Linked DNA regions of Homo sapiens. The protein of the gene in region 1 interacts with the protein of each later gene in a pairwise test. Each region holds a gene or a part of one and is shown in the gene's direction. Other genes may lie near its edges.

Region 1 (6,969 bases):
ACGATGAACAAAATACACATGATCCCTGATTTCACTGAGTATCCAGTCCCAAATTTTTAAAAAAATGTACAATGGGGCAACATTACCTTAGATTCCATCAAGACAACCAGATTCTGTTTTTAAGCATGAGTATCCTCTTATGGTCAAAAGTTGGTTCTACTTTTACAAATAAAAGTGGTCTTGAGCAACTCCACATCCAGCTGACTAGTGTGGAAGCCAAAATTCAGTGTGTAAAGGGCCAATATTAAGTAATAGAGATCAGGGTATTTAGTTATGTGGAATATTGTTTAGTTCATCAATACTGGCTGGCTTGGCAGGATACAGAGTTACCTAAGAGACAGATCATACAATGCACTTGTTGAGGGCAGGAGGAGCTGTGCATTAGCCACCTTTACATTCCCAAGTCAACTCAGTGACTGACTCATGATAAGTACCTAGCAGAGTAAATATGTTTGCTGACCTGAACTCAAAGTTAGATCTTTCTCTACTAGGATGATCAGAATGACATAGAAATTTAAGGCAGAGGTCCCCAAACCCCGGGCCGTGGACCTGTACTGGTCAGTGGCCTGTTAGGAACTGGGCCACATAGCAGGACGTGGGTAGCTGGTGGGTGAGCATTACTGCCTGAGTTCCGCCTCCTGTCAAATCAGCGGCAGCATTCGCTTCTCATAGGAGTGCAAACCCTATTGTGAACAGTGCATACGAGGGATCTAGATTGCGCACTCCTTATGAGAATCTAACTAGGATTTTCATGGAAAAAAATTGCCTTCCATGAAACCAGTCCCTGGTGCCACAATGGTTGGAGACTGCTGCTTTAAGGTCAAAGTGGACAGCTGGTAATCCCCAATTTTCACATTTTATAGGGCAAATGCATTCTTTATGTGCTGTATGTTAAAGTTTCCAAACCAACATGACAAGGCACACTAACACATTTGTTGTTAAAGATGTTAGATGTTAGAGACGTGCTGAGATCTTTAACCTCTTATCCCCTGGGCAGCACGTCTCATGTCAGTGGGCTACAGAAACTCTACCACTGGCTATATGTGGCATGAGATAAGAAAGGCTTGGTAGCTTCACTCTACGGCATATAATTTTAGGGTCTCAACTGAATATTTACACAAACCTGAACCAACATGTTTTCCTGGGGAATAAATGCTCTTTCAGCCCACCTCTGTGTAGCCTTGTAATAGAATGAAAACAAAAGCCAGGCTTTTATTTATTTGCTTATGTATTTATATTATACTGAATCACACTCCACAAATCCCTTGTGGAATGAGACCAGGTATAAATAAACAAGTATCTAGCTTTTAGATTTTTCTAACAATGCTAACACTGCTGCCAGGCCATCTGAAATATAAAGACTGTCTTTTCCATCAGCAGCACAGAAGACGAGTACTTGAGACTCTCATCATTCCCCCCTTTCATGAACTAAGGGCTATTCAATTCTTATAAAGGACAGGTGAGAGGAGTGGTATCTGAGAAAGACTGACTAGGGGGCTGTTAGATACCCTTTCATCTCAGTTCCCAAAGTTTGATTCTTGTTCTGAATTAGATTAGGGACTAATGCACTCGACTATAACCTTAGCTCCCCATAGAAATATCACCACTGAATCAGGACGCAAGACCATCTTCTTAGCTTTTATGAGGACTTGATTTTTTTTAAAGGCACATAAAAACTGTTTTGAATCTTCTGCTGATGCCCTAATTAGACTGTAAGGTATCTGAGAGCAGGGACTATCTTACTCACCTTGGTAGCTGTAGCACCTAACACAGTGGATGCTGTGAGCACAAAAAACATTACATACATAAATGCTGAATACAATAAAGTGACCAAAGTATACCAATGTGTAGCAAGTTAGAAAGCCTTTTTATTTTTTTGAGACATAGTCTCACTCTGTCACCCAGGCTGGAGTGCAGTGGCATGATCTCGGCTCACCGTAACCTCTGCCTCCTAGCTTCAAGTGATTCTCGTGCCTCAGCCTCCTGAGTAGCCGGGATTGTAGGTGCACGCCACCATGGCCGGCTAATTTTTGTATTTTCAGTAGAGACGGAGTTTCATTATGTTGGCCAGGCTGGTCTTGAACTTCTGACTTGAAGTGATCCACCCTCCTCAGCCTCCCAAAGTGGTGGGATTACAGGCGTGAGTCACTGTGCCCAGCTGTATAAAGCTTTTTTTTCTTTTTAAAGGATTTTCGCAGAAAAATTCTTTTTTTAAAAAAAAAAAAAAAAAAAAGGAAATGCAAACCTGCAAAGCTAGAATTGGGCTTTATGTGAAGAGTTTCACCAAGTGTGAAAACCTTCAAAACAGACTTCAAATATGCAATCTGGACAGGCTTTGTTACCAGGTTTTTAAAAATCAAGTTTGAATAGTTCAAAAACAAGTAAAATTGTTTTAGTGAAGAAATGGCCTTTTAAAACCCAGGTCCTAGCTGGGCAAGGTGGCATGTGCCGGTAGTCCTAGCTACTTGGGAGGCAGGCCGGAGGGTCATTTGAGCCCAGGAGTTGGGAGTCCAGCCTGGACAATACAGTAAGACCCTGTCTCTTAAAAAAGAAAAAATTAAAAGCGAGGTCCTGAAGGTTAATGAAATCAGTATCGGCAATTCATTTAGATGACGGTGCTCAAAATATTCGTCCTGTGGAAAGTCACAACGAAAGGTAAAATTCTCAGGACATCTGTGAGTTAAAACAACAGACCCAGCGTAGGGATTGTGCCAACCTCCCAGTCTCTAGCTGCCCTGCTGGCAGTCCAGGAAGGGTATCTCCTGTCAGTTCCTGAAAGGGAATTCTTCAGCTGCCAAATCAGGCGGGAAAAAGGAAGTATAGAAGGCTCTGTGGAAACTGGCACCAGAGCACAGTTTCAAGGCACCGAGAGTTATATTTGAAAAATCATGTAAAGGTGGCTGCCAAGATTACAGTAGATTTAAAGCAGTATAAGAATCGTTCATGACTAAGACCACTGAAAAATCCTGGACCCAAAACAACTCTAGAGACACAAACACTGTAAACGATACCTAGTATATACTTACTACCGGAAAATCTGCCACACGTGGGATTAGAAATGACAACCTCAACATGGTTTGTTGCTAAATACAGTACCCTCCTGTTCTAACAGCTGACTTTTATAGATACAGAAATGTACTAAGGGTAAAACCATGCCCTTAGAAAGGAAACGCTGTTGCTACCTATACAGAAACAGCCTCTCCTAATAAGAAACACACTGATGACCACCCTATCCCACAACCCCGGTACCCCTTACGGTGCTGAGAACTTTTGGTACTGAGCCAGTTCAGAAAGCAGCACACACGAGAGCCAAATATTTCGGGCACATTCCAACTCTTGTCCACCCCTTAGTTTCCTTTTCAGTAGACTCCCAAGAACCTCCATCCACGGGAGAAACCTGGATTTGGGGGAGGGAATCCCAGGGGGAGGGGAGGGGAGCGGTCCACCCCGGGACACATGCACCCCCTCCAGGGTCCCCTCTGCAGATCGGCCCAGCTGTCCGGGCGCAGAGCCCCCAGCCCCGGCACCCAGCTTCTCCGGGCCCCGGAGCCGCCTGGAAGCCCCCGTCGGCCGCAGGTCGAGAAGGTGCTTCCCAGGCCGGGGAAGGTGCCCGCGCCCTTGCCCGCAGCGCCCCGCCCCGATGCCCGGCTCTGCGCCGCGTCCCAGCGGCGGCGCCGCCGCGCGGTAACCCGGAAGTGGCGGCGGCGGCGGCGGCGGCGGCGGGCGTGCGGGAGCGGGAACGGGAGCGGGGGGCGGCGCGCACGAGCCGGCCATGGACGCCGCCGCCGGCTTTGTGTGCCGCGCGCGGGCCCGGGCCGCCCGCGCCTCGCCTGGGTTCCGGGGCCGCCGCTGACCCGCCCGGGCTCCGAGCGCCGCGCCCGCCGGGCCGGCCCCGCCTCCTGCCCTCCTCCGCCTCCGCCTCCTCCTGCCGCCGGGCGGGCGGGCTGCAGCCGCCCTCCGCGCTCGCCTGCCAGCTCCCTCGCCGCGCGTCCGTCCTCCGTCCTCCCGGGCCAGCCAGCCAGCCAGCCAGCCGGGCCGGCGGCGGGCACCAGGCCGTCCCGATGCCCGAGCCAGGCCCCAGGATGAACGGCTTCTCGCTGGGTGAGCTGTGCTGGCTCTTCTGCTGCCCGCCCTGCCCGAGCCGCATCGCCGCCAAGCTGGCCTTCCTGCCGCCCGAGCCCACCTACACGGTGCTGGCGCCGGAGCAGCGCGGCGCCGGCGCGTCCGCCCCGGCCCCGGCCCAGGCTACCGCCGCCGCCGCCGCGGCCCAGCCGGCACCGCAGCAGCCCGAGGAGGGCGCGGGCGCGGGGCCCGGTGCGTGCAGCCTGCACCTCAGCGAGCGCGCCGACTGGCAGTACTCGCAGCGCGAGCTGGACGCCGTCGAGGTCTTCTTCTCGCGCACGGCCCGGGACAACCGGCTCGGCTGCATGTTCGTGCGCTGCGCGCCCTCCAGCCGCTACACGCTGCTCTTCTCGCACGGCAACGCCGTGGACCTGGGCCAGATGTGCAGCTTCTACATTGGCCTCGGCTCCCGCATCAACTGCAACATCTTCTCCTACGACTACTCGGGATACGGCGTCAGCTCGGGCAAGCCCTCCGAGAAGAACCTCTACGCCGACATCGACGCCGCGTGGCAGGCGCTGCGCACCCGGTGAGCCTGCCGGGGTCGCCAGGCCTGACTTCCAGCTGTGGGGAGGCGGGGTGGGGGTCTCTTGGGGCCCCTGGGGCGGCCTGCCAGGAGAGGGGCCCCTCCTCCGGGGCTGAGGGCCAGCGGAGAGCCCCTTGGCCGCCGTAAATTCGCTTTTCTTGTCCCACCCTGGCTTGCTCCCACCCTCTCCAAAAACCGCGCCAGCCTTCAGGTTCCTGGAGAGCTCGGACTCAGAGAATTTTGCCTGCTTTGGCTCGCCTGTGTGTCGCCGGCCCACCGGCTGGGTCTTTTGTGGCTCCGGTCACCGCGAGTGGCAGAGTGTGGGTGCTTAAGTACCGGGCAGAAAGAAACAACTTGGTTCGAGTTTCGTTTGTACGAGCTGAAGTGACCTTGGGCAAGGCACATGGGTTTCTAGACTCAGTTTCCTTCCCTGTAAAGTCAGTGGGCGAGACAGGATGGCCTCTAAAAGACTTTCTGGTTGTAAAGTGCGGGCAGGACAATGTCTGGGCAACCTTGGAAACAGCTGGAGCGTCAGGTGGAGCGGGGAGTTTGCCTCCTGGTGGGGCAAAGTAGTGGCACTGTGGGGCAGGAAGTTAGCTGGTAGCTGTGGGCCTGGCACCTTCCACACGGCCTCCATAACAGTCCAGGATAAGTTTGAAACTTGCAGGGGCTGGGAAATCTCTGACCTTAAATTAGCATTCACAGAAGGACTGAAAAGTGTTTAGGGTGGGCCATCTGTGAGCCAGGCACAAACTGGGGGCATGGTTTAGGGGTTAGACCTGGTTGTTTTATAACAAGCAAACCAAAAACCTGACTTTTATTCACTATTAGACAAAAGTCTTATACATGTGCAGGTCAGGTTACCTGTTTGTGCTCCAGTTTGGGTATCTGTGACCTTTCCGACCTGCCTCATAGCAGTGATGGTGAAAATAACCTGAGGCCATGTCTATGATGAGATTTGATTTCTTCAGATGAAAGAGTCCCCAGAGGAAGTACACCGGGCATTATTGTCGCCATGGACCCTTCTATAGTTTTTATCTAAAACCTGTTTGCTTATGCACATCACCAACGTTAATGATTTTTTTTTTTCATTCGTACTCACGCATATGTTCCTAAGTGACTCCTTGCCTGTCTGGGAAAATGGCTTGTCCAACAGGGAAGTACTTAATATTTGCTCTATGTTGCATGTTTATGCCCTCCTGAAGTCCTGAAGGGGATGCCCTCATTGGGATTATAGCTTTTCGAAAGTGGCTTAGGCAGATGAGAATGTATCATATGCAGATGCATTGGGTCAGAGTCTGTAAGTAGTTAAAAGCCACCTGTTCCAGTAAAGGGTTTCAAAAGTATGTGTCACACACAGTCTATAGCTTGCTAGAATTTGCTGTTGGCAAAGGTATTAAAAATAAGGTTGGCATTAGATCTTTAAAATTTGAAACATGAAAATCCTACCTTGAGTAGATTTTTTAATTGAAGAGTTTCCATAGAACATTGCTTCTGTGTGTGCATGTCCACATTACAATGAAAGCCTTTCACATGGCTCACCCTTTGCCCCAAATATACAGGTGTGTCTGTGTTACAGCTTACGTGGAGTGTAGTTATTTCCTGGAAACTTTTTTTTTTTTGGTCATATTTAGTTGAATTAAGGGGCGTTGTTTTGGATAATGTTGAATTATCTGATAGTGTATCAGTTGAATTAAGGGTAATTGTTTCGGATAACTTTGAATTATCTGATGGTATGTCTAAAGATTGCCCATGATTTATTTAATGTTATACCAGAACTCATATCTAAGTTAATTTATTCACCTGTAAAAAAGGTTAGAATTTGAAGGCTGCATGCGAAGCTTAGAATTTGAAGGAACCTTATAGATCCTCATGTCTTGTGCTTTTCAAACTGTTTTGACTGTAACCTCACAGTAAGAAACACATTTTACGTTTTGATCAAGCACACATACACGTCTGTATCCACATACCTGAAGCCAATGCTTCACAAAACAGTAATTTTTCTATGGGCAGCACACATAGCAGAATATGTTGTTTTATTTCACTTTTTTTTTTTTTTTTTTTTTGAGACGGAGTCTTGCTCTGTCGCCCAGGCTGGAGTGCAGTGGCGCCATCTTGGCTCACTGTAAGCTCCACCTCCCGGGTTCACGCCATTCTCCTACCTCAGCCTCCCGAGTAGCTGGGACTACAGGCGCCCGCCACCGCGTCCGGCTAATTTTTTGTATTTTTAGTAGAGACGGGGTTTCACCGTGTTAGCCAGGATGGTCTCGACCTCCTGACCTCATAATCCGCCCACCTGGGACTCCCAAAGTGCTGGGATT
Region 2 (5,796 bases), on another chromosome or scaffold:
AGGATCACTTGGGACCAAGAGCTCTAGACCAGTCTGGGCAACATGGCGAGACCCCACTTCTACTAAAAAAGAAAAAATCACTGTTGTCTCCTGAGGCCATGGGTTAGGGGCCAAATTTCGTCTTCCATTCATTCATATTTCCACCAGCCTCATCAGGGTCAGGATTAGGGTGGGACAAGTTGGGGCACTCTCTCCAGGGGTAAAATGTAAGGGGATGCCAAAAAAAGACTCTGCAATCGAGTTTAGTAACATTTTAATGCGAAATTTAAAAAAATCAAAATTAATGCAAAATACCCAATGTATTGGCTGCGCACAATGCCAAAAGTTTAAATAAAAGACACTATTGGACCCCACACTAGCACAACCTTCAGAGCTGTGCAAGTAGCGAGGTGCAGGCACAACGACACAAATCATGTTGTGGGTTTTAATATATAGACTTGGCAATTTTCCTTTTTTCTTTTTTTTTTTTTTTTGAGGTGGAGTCTCACTCTGTTGCCCAGGCTGGATTGCAGTGATGCAATCTCAGCTGACTGCAACCTTGGCCTCCCAGGTTCAAGCAATTCTCCTGCCTCAGCCTCGTGAGTAGCTGAGACTACAGGCACACGCCACTATGCCCAGCTAATTTTTGTATTTTTTAGTAGAGATGGGGTTTCCCCAGGTTGGCCAATCTGGTCTCGAACTCCTGGCCTTGAGTGATCGTCTCACCTTGGCCTCCCAAAATGCTAGGATGACAGATGTGAGCCATCTCGCCTGGCCCAATGTTTTTTAATGCTTTTATTTTAAAACATTTTATTATTTGTTTATATATTTATTTGAGACAGCATCTTGCTCTTTTGCCCAGGCTGGAGTGCAGTGGTGCAATCATAGCTCACTGCATCTTGGAACACTGAGGCTCAAGCCATCCTCCCACCTCAACCTCTCAAGTAGCTGGGACTACAGGCATGCATGACCACACCTGGCTAATTTTATTTTTTCATTTTTTGTACAGACATGGTCTTGCTATGTTGCCCAGGCGAGTCTTGAACTCCTGGCCTCAAGTGATCCTCCTGCCTTGGCCTCCCAGAGTACTGGAATTACAGGCATGAGCCACCGTGCCCAGGCTTAATGACTTTAATGTTCTGGGAAAATATTACTATAATTTCATAAAGATACAGATATAGGGGTGCGTGTTTTCCCTTTGCCTTGGGCTCTGTTACAGTGCCGTATGGCACCAGGGCTTACAGAGGCAATGGAGTTTGTGACTCCACTCCCTAGAAATTTGTTGTTTGGGGCAAAGTAGAAAGTCTTTCTGACAAGTGTGATCACTTGTGACAAAAAAGGTAAGTTTTAACGATTGCCTTGCAGCTTAGATCTGTTTATAACTTTTTCTAAAATAGGGAGAACCAAGCAATTTCATCCTTACCCTCAGAAGGAAGCAAGAGGGGTAATATATGTCACTGGTATTGGCTTTTAAATGTCCTTTTGATTTGAGAGAAGGTGTCTGCATTATTTTCTATCTCAAGGTATTTTTAGTTCTTTTCATAATCTATTGCCACTGAAATAACAATTCATCCCAAATTGGACCAGGTAACTAACTTATGAGATAAACTGCCGTGGAATGCAGTCCTTCTTAAGACTTTGGGATATTCATTCATTAGGAAAATAAAATGCTAAAAAAAAAAAAAACTAAATACCTCTTACTGACATAATTCCATTCCCTCTCCCATATATACCTTTCAAAAATACATGTCACATCTGGTTAACGATCTTTTGAAATTTCTCAATTAACTTCTAGCTGGAAACAAAAACAGGCTTAGTTACAAAGAGATTGACACAGGATGCAATGGACCTGACTTTCCACTTAGAAATCAAATACTGAGTGAAATAAATGACTTTCTAAAAGAAAGACTCCCTGCTTGGTCACTGGTATTCATGGGATGTTTTTCTCCAATATCAATTTGTTCACTTTGCACAGGCAATTTCCTGCCATTTCGCCAGTGCCGATTGCCACTACATTGACGTGAAGGGCACCAGTCAAGAAAACATCGAGAAGGAAGTTGTAGGAATAGCACATAAATTCTTTGGAGCTGAAAATAGCGTGAACTTGAAGGTATGTTTGTATACAATAGCAAGGTAAAAATCTCAGGTTTTTCTTTTCTTCAGATGCTTCATAATTCTCATACCTAGTTTATTTGACAGTATATAGTGCTTGGGTTTAGATTCATTTTAGGGACATCGCTGAGCCCCCACCAAAAATGACAATGGAATTTCCATTTACACTTGTGCCCCCGTGCAGGAGGCTTGAGAACTTCCTGCTGCTTCTTTATGTCTTGGGGCTGTCCAGAGGTGTGCTGGCTGTCCTGTTTCACACAGGACAGTAAAGGAAAACAAAACTACAGATTGAGATGAGAGAAAATCAAAGACAAAACCTTGCCTTCTGGCTGGGCATGGTGGCTCATGCCTGTAAATCCCAACACTTTGGGAAGCCAAAGCAGGAGAATCACTTGAGCTCAGGAGTTGGAGACCAGCCTGAGAAACACAGTGAGACTCCATCTCTACTAAAAAAGAAATAAAAATAAAAATTAGTCAGGTTGGGTGGAGCATAGCTGTAGTCCCAGCTACTCGAAGGCTGAGTTGAAAGGCTCACTTGGAGCTTGAGGTCAAGGCTGCAGTGAGCTGATTGCACTACTGCACTCCAGCCTGGGTGACAGAGTGAGACCATGTGTCAAAAAAAAAGCCTTCTGAAGGGATAGAAGGAAAGTTATAGGTTTGAGATCCAATCATAGGCCATGTTTATTAATATAGAATAGAGTATTTATGGCTGGGCGAGGTGGCTCACGCCTGTAATCCCAGCACTTTGGGAGGCCAAAGCAGGCAGATCACAAGGTCAGGAGATCGAGACCTTCCTGGCCAACATGGTGAAACCCCGTCTCTACTAAAAATACAAAAATTAGCTGGGTCTGGTGGCACATGCCTGTAGTCCCAGCTACTCGGGAGGCTGAGGCAGGAGAATGGTGTGAACCCAGGAGGCGGAGCTTGCAGTGAGCCGAGATCATGCCACTGCACTCCAGCCTGGGCGACAGAGCGAGACTCTGTCTCAACAACAACAAAAGAAGGAATCTTGCTTCTCCCTTTAGAACCTGGAAATGTGTCGCATCTCTGAAAATGCTCTGATTTTGCATTTGCAGGTCCTAGAAATTCTTGTCCTTCCTCACTTTTTGTTCAGTACCTAAAATGCCTATACATTTTGTCAACTGGAGCTTTGAGCTAACATCCTAAATTTTAAGGGAGAACAAATATATGTACATTATGTTTGAGGTTTGTCAAGGTTGTGCTAAATGAATACCTCCCACATTTAGTTTAATTACTCTGTAAGTTATATTTAGAATAACAATATTAACCTCTGCTACATAGTTCTCTGTAAAGTACAAAAGCACATTCATATTCATTTTCTTATTTTCTTCACCAAAACCCGGTGGGGCAGTATAAACTCCATGCTGTCAATGACAAGAAAACAAATCCCAGAGGCTGATCTAAGCTAGCTAAGCGACAAAGCTTGATTTTAGAGTCAGGTCAAATCTGAAAATTATTCTTTCCACCATACCTTGCTGTTTGCTCAAAAATAAACAAGAACCAAGAAATAAGAACATCTAAATTATTTTATTAAGGGCAGAGGGGGAAGAAACCCACCAAACAAAGCAGTAATCCTTGATACCATGTTCACTATTATCATCTCATCAAGAGTAGAACACTCAAAAAGGCTCAGACAAGTAACATAAGAGTCATCAGGCCAGGTGCAGTGGCTCACTCCTGTAATCCCAGCACTTTGGGTGTTTGAGGCGGGTGGATCACCTGAGGTCAGGAGTTTGAGACCAGCCTTACCAACATGGTGAAACCCCGTCTCTACTAAAAATATAAAATTAGCCGGGTGTGGTGGCACATGCCTCTAATCCTAGCTACTTGGGAGGCTGAGGCAGGAGAATCATTTGAACCCAGGAGGCAGAGGTTGCAATGAGCCAAGATGGTACCATTGCACTCCAGCCTGGGCAACAAGAGCAAAATTCCGTCTCAAAAAAAAAAATTATGCAGAAAAATGGCAGTGAACTGTTTGTTCTGTAACCCGACATGACATTGACCCAGTTATGTTAGCTGGCACCAACAAATATCCTGAATAAAACAGAACTGACAGCAGCTGGGGGACCCACTGACTTAATTTAGTTAACACTGTTTTAGAAGTCGGTTAAGTAGACCAGGAGTGGTGGCTCATACCTGTAATCCCAGCACTTGGGAGGCTTTGCAAGGCCAAGGCGGACAGATCACTTGAGGCCAGGAGTTTGAGATCAGTCTGGCCAGTGTAGCGAAACCCTGTCTCTACTGAAAATACAAAAAGTTAGCTGGGCGTGGTGGTGCACACCTGTAATCCCAGCTACTCGGGAGGCTGAGGCAGGAGAGTCGCTTGAACCCGGGAGGCAGAGGTTGCAGTGAGCCGCTGCACTCCAGCCTGGGCAATGGGGTGAGACTGTGTCCCCAAAAAATTTTTAAAAAAGAGTTGAGTAAGTAGTTTAAGTTGAGTTGTTTTGTTTACTAATGAATATAACTTACAGGGATTATTTTCCCTATGTAACCTTTCATAGAAGCTAGAAATCAATTTTGTGTTATGGTGAAATTGAAGGTTAATGGAGGGCAGATTGAAGTGTTCCATAAACCCACTCTGTTTGATATTATTTCCAGGATATTTGGATGTTTCGAGCTCGACTTGTGAAAGGAGAAAGAACCAATCTTTGAAATAGCCATCTGCTATAACTCTTTCAACAGAAAACCAAAACCAAACGAAATGTCTAAGGAAAATGTTTTCTTAATGAGATGATGTAACCTTTTCTATCACTTGTTAAAAGCAGAAAACATGTATCAGGTACTTAATTGCATAGAGTTAGTTTTGCAGCACAATGGTGTTGCTTTAATGGAAAAAAAAAACAGTAAAAGTGAAATATTACTGTTTTAAGGAAAACTAATTTAGGGTGGCAGCCAATAAAGGTGGTTGGTGTCTAATTTAAGTGTTAAATCAATTTCTTTCATTCAGTTAGCTCTTTACCCAAGAAGAAGTGAATGATTTGGAGCTTAGGGTATGTTTTGTATCCCCTTTCTGATAAACCCATTCCCTACCAATTTTATGTCATAAGAGATTTTTTTCCCCCAAATCTAGAACAATGTATAATACATTCACATCTAGTCAAGGGCATAGGAACGGTGTCATGGAGTCCAAATAAAGTGGATATTCCTGCTCGGACAAGGGCTTTCTCCTGTGATTTCTTCAACCCAACCATTCCCTTAACAAGAAGACTTGTTCTTTCCAGTCCTTTCCTCTGTTCCTGAAGAATGAAGACAAGGGCCAGGTGCAGTGGCTCACGCCTGTAATCCTAGCACTTTGGGAGGCCGAGGTGGGTGGATCACCTGAGGTCAGGAGTTCAAGACCAGCCTGGCCAACATGGCAAAACCCCATCTCTCCAAAAATACAAAAAAAAAAAAAAAAAATAGCCGAGCGTGGTGGCATGCACCTGTAATCCCAGCTACTCAGGAGGCTGAGGCAGAAGAATTACTTGAACCTGGGAGGCAGAGGTTGCAGTGAGCTGAGATCACACCACTGCACTCCAGCTTGGGTGACAGAGCAAGACCCTGTCTCAAAAAAAAAAAAAAAGGAATGAAAAATAAATAAATAAAAAGAACGAAGATGAGGGTGACTTCATTTGATGTATCTTATTGGGTAGGGCTGCTGGAAACTTTCCACATTTATGAATGAAGCCTAACCTCCTTCAAGCT
Region 3 (7,030 bases), on another chromosome or scaffold:
TCTCCTTCTCATGGTTTACCAGGCAGTCTCAGGTTTTTATGACATTTTCTCACAAGAATCTCAAAATTCATGCTGACCAGTTTCATTACGATGCTAACACTAACTTTGTATGGAAACAGGTGGGTAGGTGGTTTTAATTTTTATTTTGAAGTATTAAAGATTCTACAATAATGTTTATTTCATGGATAGTATATTTACACTATTTTTCTATAACAAGTATATTTCTAAAACAGTGAACATGGGGTAAAACACTGCTATTTAAGGTTCTCAGATTTTTGAATTATGAATTTTCATGTTATCTACCAAAAAAATCTTCTCTTACAATTTTTCTGTTGTCAGCAGATGTGCAAATGGATCTTTATGACTCTAGAAGTCTGAGATCACAGTTACATGTGCCTCAATGTGTATTTACTGTGTATCATTTTCTTAATGTAAATGTTACAGGATTTCAGCTATGAAGGGTGTAAAAGAGGCATAGACTCAACAAAGTGGAGTACATTCTAGAAGGCTTGGTTATGTCATGACACCAAAATGTATTCAACTTCCTAAAATGAAAGTGTAGCTCATTTGTAAATTTCTCAGAAAGATAGTGTACTTTGTAAGTACATTTTATTGCTGTTAAATATCCTATTTGTCATAAGACTCTCTAGCTAGAAGAAAATCAGAATTATGTGCCTATTCTTGTCTTTGTACATGCAGCCAACATTTCACTGGCAAACTTAGATTTTGTAAATCAATTATGAGTACTGATGGGGGTCAGCCTATTGTTCTTCCTGCTACCAACTGTAGCTTATACTGAAAAAGAATTGCCACCTTTACAATCTGAACTGGACTACTCAACTGCCAATACAATATTAGCAGTAAATTAGATTTGGCAACTTATTTAATACTGTGTGCCTCTTTTCAATTTTATATTTTTCACATGGGAAGTGTGTCATAAAATCTGCCTACCTTCCAAAAGGCTGAAGATCTAGGTTGAGAAGCAGAGACCATGTCTAAGGCAACTGGAGAAACACACAGGACAATGTATTGGCAATTGTTTACTTGTGCACTTATGAGACTTCAGACACTAATCTATAGGAAGTTAATGGTCCACTCCAAAATAGGTGTTTGGGGCACAAATAAATTTAGTTAATAGATTAATAGATTAAAATATTTCATTATCATATTACTCTAGTGCTCTGTGACTCTCTAAGAGTTATATATAATAATACACAGCACTTCCAAAATATCTAGAAGACATTTTTCAGGTCACTCTTGTTATTATCCCTATCACTCTCTATCCCTTCACACTGCTCTGTTTTTCTTCTTAGGATTGATTACTACTAAATTAGTGTATGTTATGTATATATTTATTTAGCATCTATCTCTTTCACTAGACAGTAAGCTCTGTGATGGAAGAAACTTCGTTTTTTTTCACTGCTGTGTCCTCAGTGCCTGGAACCATGTTCAACATAGAGGAGGCACTAAAAAATGTGATAAATGAATATGTTTGGTGCCTATTAGTTATTACCAATATAACTAATCCACAGCTTTTAATCTTCAGGTGCGCCTAGTAGATGGGAAAGGCGTCCCTATACCAAATAAAGTCATATTCATCAGAGGAAATGAAGCAAACTATTACTCCAATGCTACCACGGATGAGCATGGCCTTGTACAGTTCTCTATCAACACCACCAATGTTATGGGTACCTCTCTTACTGTTAGGGTAAGTTTGGAAAGAAATTACCAATGACATGAAGTAGCCTTGGAAACAAGGTTGCAACCTAAGGGTGAGAAAATTTCCAAACTGTGTCTAGTTCTATGGAGAGAAAAAAACTAGCAATTAGAAACCGATTGAAGGTTAACTTTTTTAAAGTTTATGAAAAGAAGGCAGTATATTGTGATTAAAAGTGCGGGTTAGACTTTAGCAGTGTTGCTGGGAACGTAAAATGGCGGAGCCACTATGAAAAACAGTATAGTAGTTCCTGAAAAAATTAAAAAATAGAATTACCAAATGATCCAGTAATCCTACTTCTGGACATATATTCAAAAGAATCGAAAACGGGGTCTCAAAGAGCTATTTGCACACCCGTGTTCATAGCCGCACTATTCACAATAGCTGAGAGATCGAGGCTACCCAAATGTCCATCAAGGGATGAACAGGTAAACAAAATGTGGTATATAAATACAACAGAATATTATGCAGCCTGAGAAGGGAAGAAAATCCTGTCACATGCTACAGCATGAATGATCCTTGAGGACGTTATGGTAAGTGAAATAAGCTAGTCACAAAAAGACCAATACTGTATGATTCACGTACATGGGGTTTCTAAAGTAGTCAAAGTCATAGAAACAGAAAACAGGATGGTGGTTGCCAAGGGCTAGGGAAAGAGAGAAATGGGGAATTCCTCTTATTGGTATTCAGGTTTAGTTTTACAAGATGAAAAGTTCTGGAGATCTGTTGCACAACAGATATACTTAATACTACCAAACTGTACACTAAAGAATAATGAAGATGGTAATTTTATGTTGTGTGTGTGTGTGTGTTTATAATAACTTTTTTGAAAAGTGTGAATTCCAGAATCTGAATCAGATAAAGTGGTTAAAAATACTGGCTCAACCCTATTTTAAGGAATTAACTAAAACCTCTGTGCTTCATTTCCTTATCTGTAAAATGATTGCAATACTAACACCTGACTCTTGGGGTGGTTGTGAAGATTAAGTGAAATCATACATGTTGAATCACTTAGTAAGCCCCCTTTAACTGTTAGATACTTTTACTATAAAAGCCAATTCTAACATAATTAGCATTTAGTTTTAAATATATATACTCCAAAAATTATTACCTTACTTTATTTTGTCTTGCTATTCTAATTTTCTCCAGATGACCTGTTCATACCAATATAAGTTATTCGGTATAGCATGCAGTCCTCTATTCATCAAGAGAGATGTAGACATGTCTATAGATACATGGATATACAATACATATTTAATATATATTACATAATCATGGTAATGGAAAACGCCTGCCTCTTTAGAGTTTTACCTTGTTATAGAGAAATAAATAATACATTTTATTTATTTAGCTTTAATAGATGGCATAAAAGCACCTCCCTCTAATTTGAATGTTTACTCATTTCAAAAAGTGTCTTGAATGCTTTCCACGTGCCAGCACTGTGCTAGTCTTGACAATGAAATTATTATTTCTACCTGTTCCCTGTTTGGGGTGATCATATATGTGTTGTCACCAAAATATACATTAAGATATGAACAAAATGTTTTGCTCAAGGATTCACTAGTGCTATTGGGAGCTGGGGATGAAGGTAGAGGAAGCCTGAAAGGAGCTAAGGAATAACTTCTACAGGAAGAAAAGTTGGAAATATAACCCAAATAGGGCCTCTGAGGTATTAGAATCCAGATTGCAGGGAGCATTAAAAATAGTCAGCCTAGGCCAGGCACGGTAGCTCACGCCTGTAATCCCAGCACTTTGGGAGGCTGAGGTGGGTGGATTGCGTGAGGCCAGGAGATCGAGACGAGCCTAGGCAACGTGGTGAAACCCTGTCTCTACAAAATATACAAAAAATTAGCTGGGTGGGGTGGCATGCACCTGTAGTCCTAGCAACTCAGGAGGCTGACTGGGAGGATCACTTGAGCCCCAGAGGCAGAGATTGCACTGAGCCAAGATTGTGCCACTGTACTCCAGCATGGGCGCCAGAGCAAAACCCTGTCTCAAAAAAATAATAATAATAGCAATCAGCCTAAGATAGCCCAGAAGAGGTAGACTTCAGCTAATTCATCAGCTCAGCTCTTAAACCAATGCTTTCTACCAATGTCTTCTCAGACCCCTAAGGTTACAATATTTTATTTATTCATAATACCCATTCAAAATCCACCCTAAAAGAGGCAGCTGCTTTCTGAAAGCACAGTTCTTCCATTTCTAGAGATTATTTACTCTCCTCAATGAAGTTTCATAGCTCCAGTGTCTCTAATTGCACAGGTAAAGCAGTCAAAGAAATTTCAAGCAAGCTAATCAGAGCAAAGGATGCCTCCTTTTATGCTCTTAAGAAATATAAATCTCAATCCCAGGAGGCTCTGCAGTGTAAAGTCACAAAGCATGCCTACATTTGAAGCAGAGAAACAAAATCAGGGGTCCTTCTCCCACTTTTCATTGTGGAACAAAAGATTTCTAGCTACTAGTTAAGGTAGGACAGTAAACTTACGTAGTTTTGTGAGAACATTAATCTTTATGACGTATAATCTAAAAATAATATAATTTTTCTAATTCATTAGGTCAATTACAAGGATCGTAGTCCCTGTTACGGCTACCAGTGGGTGTCAGAAGAACACGAAGAGGCACATCACACTGCTTATCTTGTGTTCTCCCCAAGCAAGAGCTTTGTCCACCTTGAGCCCATGTCTCATGAACTACCCTGTGGCCATACTCAGACAGTCCAGGCACATTATATTCTGAATGGAGGCACCCTGCTGGGGCTGAAGAAGCTCTCCTTCTATTATCTGGTGAGAAGGGAGGTTACTGCGTTGACTTCACTGTAGACAAAAGCTCTCTGTGGAGCAAGTAATCATGAAGCTCTTTAGATGTCATTACTTCAACTTCTTATCCATGTTCCTTTTGAAAGTTTGATTTCTCTTGAGGTGAATTATTGCCGGCAGGGACTCAATAAAACAAGTATATTGAAGTGAGACTGAAGCGTGTTCTCTCTGGCACATTTAATTTCTTTTTATTTCCTTTTTTGCAGATAATGGCAAAGGGAGGCATTGTCCGAACTGGGACTCATGGACTGCTTGTGAAGCAGGAAGACAGTGAGTATTTCCATCATCTCTGCATTGCTGCCCCATTCTGACCCATTCAGCCTTACACCACGGAAGTATCAGAATACTTTCCCTTTTTTTCCATAGGTTTTTGGGGGAACAGGTGGTGTTTGGTCACATGAATGAATAAATTCTTTGGTAGTGATTTCCGAGATTTTGGTGCACCCATCACCCGAGCAGTATACATTGTACCCAATTTGCAGTCTTTTATCCCTCACCCCCTTCCACCCTTCCCCCTGAATCCACAAAGTCCATTGTATCATTCTTATGCCTTTGCATCCTCATAACTTAGCTCCCACTTCCTAATAGCTTAGCTGCCACTTCCTAATAGCTTAGCTCCTACTTCTGAGTGAGAAGATATGATGTTTGGTTTTCCATTCCTGAGCTGGGAATATCAGGAATACTTTCAAGTAACGAGAGACCATTTCCATCTAATATTAATTAAAAGAAAGTTGAGGGAGGGAAAACAATAATGGTTTTTTTCTCACCCTTTATCAAATATGTGTTGTCTTTTTTTTCAGCCTATTTTCTTTGCGTTATTTAAAATATTGGTGTGGGCCAGCTATGATGGCTTACGCCTGTAATCCCAGTACTTTGGGAGAACGGGATGGGAGGATCTCTTGAGGTCAGGAGTTTGAGACCAGCCTGGTCAACATAGTGAGACCCCATCTCTATAAAAGTAAATAAATAAATAAATAAATAAATAAGAACAAAGGGGGAAAAATAAAATACATAAAATATTGTTGTGTATAATCTATGCTTATTCCAGATTTTTAAACCATAAATATTCTTGAACCTCTTCTCAAAATGAGAATTGTGTTAGAGAATGGGGTGGAGAAAATGTACGATTTCAAGGTATGTTGTATATACCAGGTCTTGTGCTGAGTCATTTATGTCATTTATATTATTATAAATATCTTTTTTCCCTTTCAAGATAGTTATGATTTATGAAGCATTAAATTGGGTACTTCTACCGACTGAAGCGGACTCTTGCCATGAGCAAATATGTCATAATATAAACCTTTGAAGGTTGCTCCTAGTCTAGTAGACTCTAAAAGATAACTTGCTAGAAAAGTATCAGTAATCTACTCTCTCATTAGTTCTTGTAGCAACACAGAAGCACCATAGCAGACTGAAGGAAACTTAATGCAACCTCTAAAGAATCTACATAGGCATCAAAAAATAACTTCTGAAGGAGCATGGTGTTCCTCTTATGGAGAAAGAACCAAATATTGGCTCATAGAAGGTTAAAGAGCATGTAGCATGAATACAATGTGTTGAACTCTTACTCTTACATCTCATAACTTCAGGTTCTATTTCCCTCTTCTAGTATGAGGCCTAGATCAAATGGTAGTGAATTGGATGTCTTCATACCCTTAACTAGCATCAGAACATTAGGTGGGTGAGCTGAAGCTTAAAGCTGGTGAAAAATCAACAGAGTATATGATTTATGAGAGGAGAGAGGGCTTTGATAGGGTTTTTTTCTAAAGCTAGAGTCCTTAGAGGTAATCATCCATTTGTTACATCTACTGTTTATTATGTCTGTTACATCTACTAATGGAAATAGTCATTAACCTATGATGGCTTCCTCTCATTCTCTTTGTGCCCCAGTGAAGGGCCATTTTTCCATCTCAATCCCTGTGAAGTCAGACATTGCTCCTGTCGCTCGGTTGCTCATCTATGCTGTTTTACCTACCGGGGACGTGATTGGGGATTCTGCAAAATATGATGTTGAAAATTGTCTGGCCAACAAGGTGTGTGTTTTAGATCATAAAATCTTCAACATGTAAAACTAGAAGTTACTATTGTTATCATTTGTTTTACACATGTGAACATTAGGGCCAAAAGGGTTAAACAAATTCCCCAGAGACATTCAGCAAGGTAGTGGCAGAGTCACACTAAGAAGCAGAATCACTTGATTCCTTATACAAAACTCTCAAACTTCTCCTAGCAGTGCCTCTTACCAATTACACAGTTCAGAGTATGTTATTCCCTTCTTCTATGATGAAACGTTGGGAAATATGTAAGCAAGTTTTTAAGACTACTAAGGAGCCAAAAGAAAAATGCAAGAGCACCTAGACCCATGCATGTCCCACCACAATTAATGAGCACCTTGCCGTGTATCAAAGATAAAAATGGCATTTCATGACTAGTAATTTATAAGAATAATTAGAAATAATTCTACTGGCTCAAGTGATTCTTGAGAATGAAAGAGAAG
Region 4 (7,030 bases), on another chromosome or scaffold:
TCTACCGTCTGCTTCTATGATATCAACTTTTTTTTTTTTTTAAAGATTCACATGAGTGAAATCATGTAGTATTTATCTTTCTGTGCCTGGCTTATTTCACTTAACATGATGTCCCCCAGGTCCACCTGTGTTGTCATGAATGACAAGATTTCATTCTTTTTTATGGCTATATAGTATTCCATTATATATATATATATATATATATATGCGTGTGTGTATATATATACACATATATAAACACATATATACACATAATATACATATATGTACACATATACACACACACACACACACACACACACACACACACATTATCCATTCATCTGTTGTTGGACACTTAGGTTGATTCCATATCTTGGCTGTTGTGAATAGTGCTGCATTAAACAGGGGAGATAATGGATTGCTAGATCATGTGGTAGTTCTATTTTTATTTTTTTCACCTGGCCATTCTTAAGTTTATTTTGATGACACCCGGTGACAGTTCCCTGTACCTAGAAGAAGGTGTTGGGACTCTTGATGTTGGAGTGTGGCTTGTGCTGAAGACACAGGACCTGGTAGGGCAGCAGGAACTTGATCTTGGAATTGTGGAACTGCTTGACTGTCGGCCGGTGGCAGTACCAGAAGCGGGACTTGGCACAACTTGCTTAGGTGCAGAGATTTGCTGGCAGTAGAGGGGCAGCATGTGGCATTTGGGGGTGGGCAGGCAGCAAATACTCTCTCAGTGTGCCCCAGGCCTTCATGGCATTCTCTCAGCACTTGCCACCACTTACAAAAAGGAAGTGCCGTCTTTCCTATTTTGAATTTTTTAAAGGAACCTGCATTCTGTTTTCCATAATGGCTGTACTAATTTACAGTCCCACCAACAGTGTGTAAGTGCTGCCTTTCTCCACATCCTCACCCGCACCAACACTCGTTTTCTTTTGTCTTTTTGATAAGAGCTGTTCTAACTGGAGCGAGGTAGTGTCTCATTGTGGTTTTGATTGGCATTTCCCTGATGATTAGTAGTGTTGAGCATTTTTTCATATACCTGTTGGCCATGGTACGTCGTCTTCTGAGAAATGTCTGTTGAGGTCTTTTTCCCTTTTGAATCAGGTTTTTTTTTTTTTTTTCTGCTGTTAAGTTCCTGATATATTCTGGATATTAACGCTTTGTCAGATGGATAGTTTGCAAATATTTTCTCCCATTCTGTAGGTTGTTTCTTCACTCTTAATTGCTTCCTTTGCTGTGCAGAAGTTTTTAGTTTGATGTCATTTCATTTGTCCATTTTTGCTTTTGTTACCAGTGCTTTTAAGGTCTTACTGAAAAAAACACTTGCTCAGCCCAGTGTTGTGAGGCATTTCTCCTGTGCTTTCTTCTAGTAGTTTCATGGTTTTGGATTTTACATTTAAGTCTTGAATCCATTTTGAGTTAATTTTTGTATGTGGGGAAAGGTAGGGGTCTGGTCTCCTGCATATGGATATCCGATTTTCCCAGCACCATTTATTAAAGAGACTGTCTTTTCCCCTGTGTGTGTTCTTGGCACCTTTGTTGAAAATCAGTTGGCTGTAGGTGCATGAATTTATTTCTGGGCTCTCTGTTCTGTTCTATTTTGTCTGTTTTTATGCCATAACATGCTGTTATGGTTACTGTTATAGCTTTGTGTAGTATGGTTTGAAGTCAGGTAATATGATACCTCCAGCTTTGTTCTTTTTGCTCACAACTGCTTTAGCCATTTGGGGTCTTTTGTGGTTCCATACGAATTTCAGGATTGTTTTTTCTGTTTCTGAAGAATGCCATTGGTGTTTTGATAGGGATTGCATTAAATCTGTAAATTGCTTTGGGTATTTTAATAATATTCTTCCAATTTGTGAATGAACACGGGATATCTTTCCATTTTTTGTGTGTCCCCTTCAACTTCTTTCATCAATGTTTTATAGTTTTCAGTGTAGAGATCTTTTGCCAGCTTGGTTTAATTTATTCCTAGGTATCTTATTTTTTTGGTAGCTATTGTAAATCGAATTGTTTTCTTGATCTCTTTTCCAATGGTTCACTGTCACGTATAGAAACGCTGTTTTTTGTACATTGATTTTTGTATCCCACAACTTTACTGAATCCGTTTATTAGTTCTGTCTGCAAACAGGGATAACTTGACTTCCTCCTTTCCAATTTGGATACCTTTTATTTCTTTCTGTTGCCCGATTGCTCTGGCTATGACCTCCAGTACTATGTTGAATAAAAACGGTCAAAGTAGGCATCTTTGTCTTGCTCCTGATCTTAGAGGAAAGGCTTTCAGCTTTTCCCATTGATTATGCTGTTAGTGATGGGTGTGTCGTGGGGAATTCCCATGAGCATCATCATTTCATCGGAAAGGGCTCGAGGACACAGTGAGGAGGGGCTGGATAGGAGAAGCATAGTGGTCATGGGAAATGAACCAATCATTGAGCACTGACTCTTCTTTTGTTGGGATTGGGTTTTTTGGGGACTGCAGCATTCTTTTATACAGCAAAATGCAAGAGCCTGGAGCTGTGCTGGATGTGGTGGGTGCCTGGCTCCAAGACCCAGCCAATCAAAACCTTCCAGAATATGGAGCCTTGGCAGAATTTCACGTGCAGCGGGTGCTGCTGCCTCTGGGCTGCTTATCGGAGGCTGAGGAGCTAGTGGTGGGCTCTGCAGCCTTTGGTGAGGAGCGGCGACTGGATGTACTTCAGGCCATTCACACAGCGAGGCAGCAGCAGAAACAGGAACACTCAGGCTCTGAGGAGGCCCAGAAGCCAAACCTGGAAGGTAGGACATTATCCCTCTGCGACCTCTGTAAAGTGGACTTGCGGGCTTGCACTGTACCTCGGGGTCTGTCGTGAAACTCCTGCGAGCTTAGAAGCAGTTCTTTGTATGAATAACTCTTGAGTCACAGAATAGGAGGCCTGTTGATTTGCTTCACAAAGTGAAGGCCAGACCCTCTGAAGTTGGCAGTGGAAGGAGAATCTCCACATGGGAAGGTGTTGCTGGGTCTTGGGACCTTGACTTGTCTTTTGAAAGTCATTTTCCCATTGGAGTCCTCTGATGAGGTCTCTTGCTTCCACCATACTGGTCTGGGTGGGATGTCCTTCCTCCTTTAAATGCTGGCCCCAATACAGACACAGCTGAGATCTGCTGGGATAGCCAAAGGAATATCAGAAACTAATTTGCAGACCCTTTCCCTGGTCGCTGAATCTTTTCCGCCCTTTTCCTTGAGTGATGATCTAGTCTAGTTGTGAATACTTCAAGGACAGAAAGTCACCATCTCTCTCTCTTTTTTTTTTTTTTTTTTTTTGTTTGAGACGGAGTCTCGCTCTGTCGCCCAAGCGGGAATGCAGTGATGCGATCTCCGCTCACTGCAAGCTGCACCTCTCAGGTTCACGCCATTCTCCTGCCTCAGCCTCCTGAGTAGCTGGGACTACAGGTGCCCGCCACCACACCTGGCTAATTTTTGTATTTTTAGTAGAGACGGGGTTTCACCGTGTTAGCCAGGATGGTCTCAATCTCCTGACCTCGTGATCTGGCTGCCTTGGCCTCCCAAAGTGCTGGGATTACTGGCATGAGCCACTGCGCCTGGCCTGAAAGGTTCTGAAAGGTTTTAAAAAACTTTTACAAAGATGCATTCAATATAGTAAATAATATATAGTCAAAATAAGTAATAAACACGAGGAAAACAATTTATATTCATGAGATTTGCAAGAGTATGTGCAGTTAAGGAATGAAGGCTTTAGCCAATACCTAATACCCTTTTACTAAACTCTTTTTTTTTTTTTTTTGAGACGGAGTTTTGCTCTTGTTGCCCAAGCTGGAGTGCAATGGCACGATCTTGGCTCACTGCAGCCTCCACCTCCCAGATTCAAGTGATTCTCGTGCCTCAGGCTCCCAAGTAGCTGGGACTACAGGCGCACACCACCACGCCTGGCTAATTTTTGTATTTTTAGTAGAGACGGGGTTTCACCATGTTAGCCAGGATGGTCTCGATCTCCTGACCTTGTGATCCACCTGCCTCAGCCTCCCAAAGTGCTGGGATTACAGGCATGAGCCACTGCGCCTGGCCTGCTCAGGTCTTAGAAGCAAGCACAGAGGTCGGGGTCAGGGAAGCTGATTCCCATGACATCCCTGAAGCTGTGCTCTGTCTCCCTGGCCAGGCTCTGTCTCCCACAAGTTCCTGTCACTACCGATGTTGGTTCGCCAGCTTTGGGACTCTGCGGTGAGCCACTTCTTTTCTCTGCCCTTCAAAAAGAGTCTCCTGGCTGCCTTGATCCTCTGTCTCCTGGTGGTGAGATTTGATCCAGGTAAGAGGTGGAGACTCTCCCCTGTCCTTCCTGGGAAGGGGTTGTTGCCAGGGCTGGGCCTGTGGGAGTGGGTGTTTGTCAGAGTCCTACTGGGGAGGGGAGTCTCTCCTATGACATTTCCCCTGAGTCTGTTCCACAAGGAGGAATTGCTAGACTGGGCATGAGCCAGCCCCACCCATAAGGAGAGGCCAGTCCTGGAGTCTATGAGAGCAGCCAGGAGAAAGTCCACTTGGCCCTGCTGACTCCTGAACATGGACTGAGTCATAGTCCTCCACTTTTTCTAGGGCTGAACTCTGACTAGAACCTCAGAATTTAAAAAAACTTCCTCTTGGCCAGGCACGGTGGCTCACGCCTGTAATCCCAGCACTTTGGGAGGCCAAGGCAGGCAGATCACAAGGTCAGGAAATCGAGACCAGCCTGGCCAACATGGTAAAGCCCCATCTCTACTAAAGATACAAAAAAAATTAGCCAGGTGTAGTGGCACATGCCTGTAGTCCCAGCTACTTGGGAGGTTGAGGCAGGAGAATAGCTTGAACCCGGGAGGCGGAGGTTGCAGTGAGCCAAGATCGCACTGCTGCACTCCAGCCTGGGCAATAGAGCGAGACTCTGTCTCAAAACAAAAAACAAAAAACAAAAAAACTTCCGCTCATCAGAATATCTACAAAAGTGTTAATTCAAGTATTAATGTCTCATGAAGTGTTAATTCAAAGCAAGTTGTAAATGAAAAACTCATACATTTTAGAAAATGTGGAAAATAGGCCGGACATGGTGGCTCACACCTGTAATCCCAGCACTATGGGAGGCCAAGGAGGGTGGATCACCTGAGGTCAGGAGTTCGAGAACAGCCTGGCCAATATGGTGAAACCCCGTCTCTACTAAAAATACAAAAATTAGCCAGGTGTGGTGGTGCGTGCCTGTAATCCCAGCAACTGGGGAGGGTGAGGCAGGGAGCATTGCTTGAACCCAGGAGGCGGAGGTTGCAGTGAGCCAAGATTGCACTGTTGCCCTCTGGCCTGGGCTACAAGAGCGAAACTCTGTCTCAAAAAAGAAAAAAAAATGTGGAAAATAGAGAAAAGTATAAAGAAGGGCATAGAAATCTGCTACTCTGCTGTGCTTTCAGTCTTTTTCTATGGATATAGAGATTGTAGGCAGTTACATGTCACACATATGCTTTCAAGCATGGCCTTAAATCGCTAACTATTCCAGTTCACAGGAATGCCCCTAAGTAATTTAACAACCCCTATTATTGAACATTTGGGTGATTATTCTGTTTTCTGCCTCGCTGTGAAGAAGGAATGAGCTCCCTAAGTGATATTTGGGAACAACCCCAGTTATTTCCTGAGGATTGACCCCTCAGGTGCATGAAGCCAAACTTGGCACTCGCTCTTTTAGATTTTTTTGTGTTACTCAGTGTGAGTTATGTTCTAATCTCTACTCTTCTCATGAATTTAGACTTAGAATATGATTAAATAAGTTTCAAAATTTAAGAGGAAATCAGAAACCCTTATACTGGTCCCTTCAAATGGTTTGTCTATTTTGAGAAGTGCCATTTGTTAACTTAGTCTTTAGATTCTCCCTGTTTCCCCATTTCTCTTTCTCTTATTCAGTGAGCTTTTTTAAAATATTTATTTATTTATTTTTATTTTTATTTTATTTTATTTATTTAGTTTTTGATACTGGGTCTTTCTCTGTTGCCCAGGCTGGAGTGCACCGGCGTGATCTTGGCTCACTGCAACCTCTGCCTCCTAGGCTCAAGCGATCTTCTCTCCTCAGCCTCCCAAGTAACTGGGACTACAGGCATGTGCCTCCATGCCCGGCTAATTTTTTATTTTTATTTTTGAGACAGAGTCTTGCTCTGTTGCCCAGGTTGCAGTGGCGTGATCTCGGCTTACTGCAACCTCCGCCTCCTGGGTTCAAGCGATTCTCCTGCCTCAGTATCCCAAGTAGCTGGGATTACAGGCACACACCACCATGCCAGGCTACATTTTGTATTTTTAGTAGAGACGGGGTTTCGCCATGTTTGCCAGGCTGGTCTCCAACTTCTGGCCTTAAGTGATCCTCTCACCTCAGCCTCCCACAGTGCTGGGATTATAGGCACAAGCCATCATGCCTGGCCAGCGAGGTTTCCGTCACATAGCTCAGAGTTGTCCTTCTAACCCGTCTGCTGAATGCTGAGCAGGGATCCCCTGTGGACGACTCTGTTTGCTTTACAAAGAAGTCACGAGTTAGCGCTCGGAATGCTCAGTATCATCAGCGTTCATCCCTGGCCACCTCCTGACTGATACAGATTTAGAAACTCTTTATGATTCTTTATGGTTCCCGTAAGCCCTTTAGTCTCGTAAACCCTGGTCTCCTAGTGGGGATGGCATGAGGACATTTGAGCCTGCTCTTTCCAAGGCTGCTTCAGAAGGGCCTGGCCCAGTGGCCCTGACCCTCAGCAGCAGGCCCGACTCATTGGAGTGATGATGGTGGGGGAGGAGAACCTGCACCTGCAGGCTGAGGATCGCATGAGCCCCAGAGATTGAGGCTGCAGTGAGCTGAACACAGACTGCACTGTACTCTAGCCTAGGTGACAGAGCGAGACCCTGTCTCTAAAAAAAACAAAACAAAACCAACTATGTGTAATTGGTAGTGGAGTCTCCCAGGGTGGGAGATGGCAGAGTGACAGGTGAGAGGGGTGGGACGTTCACTGTAGTCTCCCTCTGCCCTGCAGCTTCCCCTTCCTCCCTGCACTTCCTCTA

The links.
Region 2: the proteins of ABHD17C (region 1) and PHYH interact in binary tests that used the Homo sapiens proteins (3 or more experiments, as listed by UniProt).
Region 3: the proteins of ABHD17C (region 1) and A2M interact in binary tests that used the Homo sapiens proteins (3 or more experiments, as listed by UniProt).
Region 4: the proteins of ABHD17C (region 1) and PEX26 interact in binary tests that used the Homo sapiens proteins (3 or more experiments, as listed by UniProt).

What each region holds. Positions count from the first base shown.
Region 1 is NC_000015.10:80,691,369-80,698,337, forward strand, and holds the start of ABHD17C (alpha/beta hydrolase domain-containing protein 17C), read left to right. Parts: upstream 1-3,941; 5' UTR 3,942-4,061; coding exon 4,062-4,651; intron 4,652-6,969. UniProt on the Homo sapiens protein: Hydrolyzes fatty acids from S-acylated cysteine residues in proteins. Has depalmitoylating activity towards NRAS and DLG4/PSD95.
Region 2 is NC_000010.11:13,277,269-13,283,064, reverse strand, and holds the end of PHYH (phytanoyl-CoA dioxygenase, peroxisomal isoform a precursor), read left to right. Parts: intron 1-1,954; coding exon 1,955-2,089; intron 2,090-4,710; coding exon 4,711-4,764; 3' UTR 4,765-5,266; downstream 5,267-5,796. UniProt on the Homo sapiens protein: Catalyzes the 2-hydroxylation of not only racemic phytanoyl-CoA and the isomers of 3-methylhexadecanoyl-CoA, but also a variety of other mono-branched 3-methylacyl-CoA esters (with a chain length of at least seven carbon atoms) and straight-chain acyl-CoA esters (with a chain length longer than four carbon atoms).
Region 3 is NC_000012.12:9,098,917-9,105,946, reverse strand, and holds part of A2M (alpha-2-macroglobulin isoform a precursor), read left to right. Parts: intron 1-1,546; coding exon 1,547-1,708; intron 1,709-4,272; coding exon 4,273-4,500; intron 4,501-4,739; coding exon 4,740-4,803; intron 4,804-6,423; coding exon 6,424-6,566; intron 6,567-7,030. UniProt on the Homo sapiens protein: Is able to inhibit all four classes of proteinases by a unique 'trapping' mechanism. This protein has a peptide stretch, called the 'bait region' which contains specific cleavage sites for different proteinases.
Region 4 is NC_000022.11:18,080,970-18,087,999, forward strand, and holds part of PEX26 (peroxisome assembly protein 26), read left to right. Parts: intron 1-2,467; coding exon 2,468-2,763; intron 2,764-4,142; coding exon 4,143-4,289; intron 4,290-7,002; coding exon 7,003-7,030. UniProt on the Homo sapiens protein: Peroxisomal docking factor that anchors PEX1 and PEX6 to peroxisome membranes. PEX26 is therefore required for the formation of the PEX1-PEX6 AAA ATPase complex, a complex that mediates the extraction of the PEX5 receptor from peroxisomal membrane.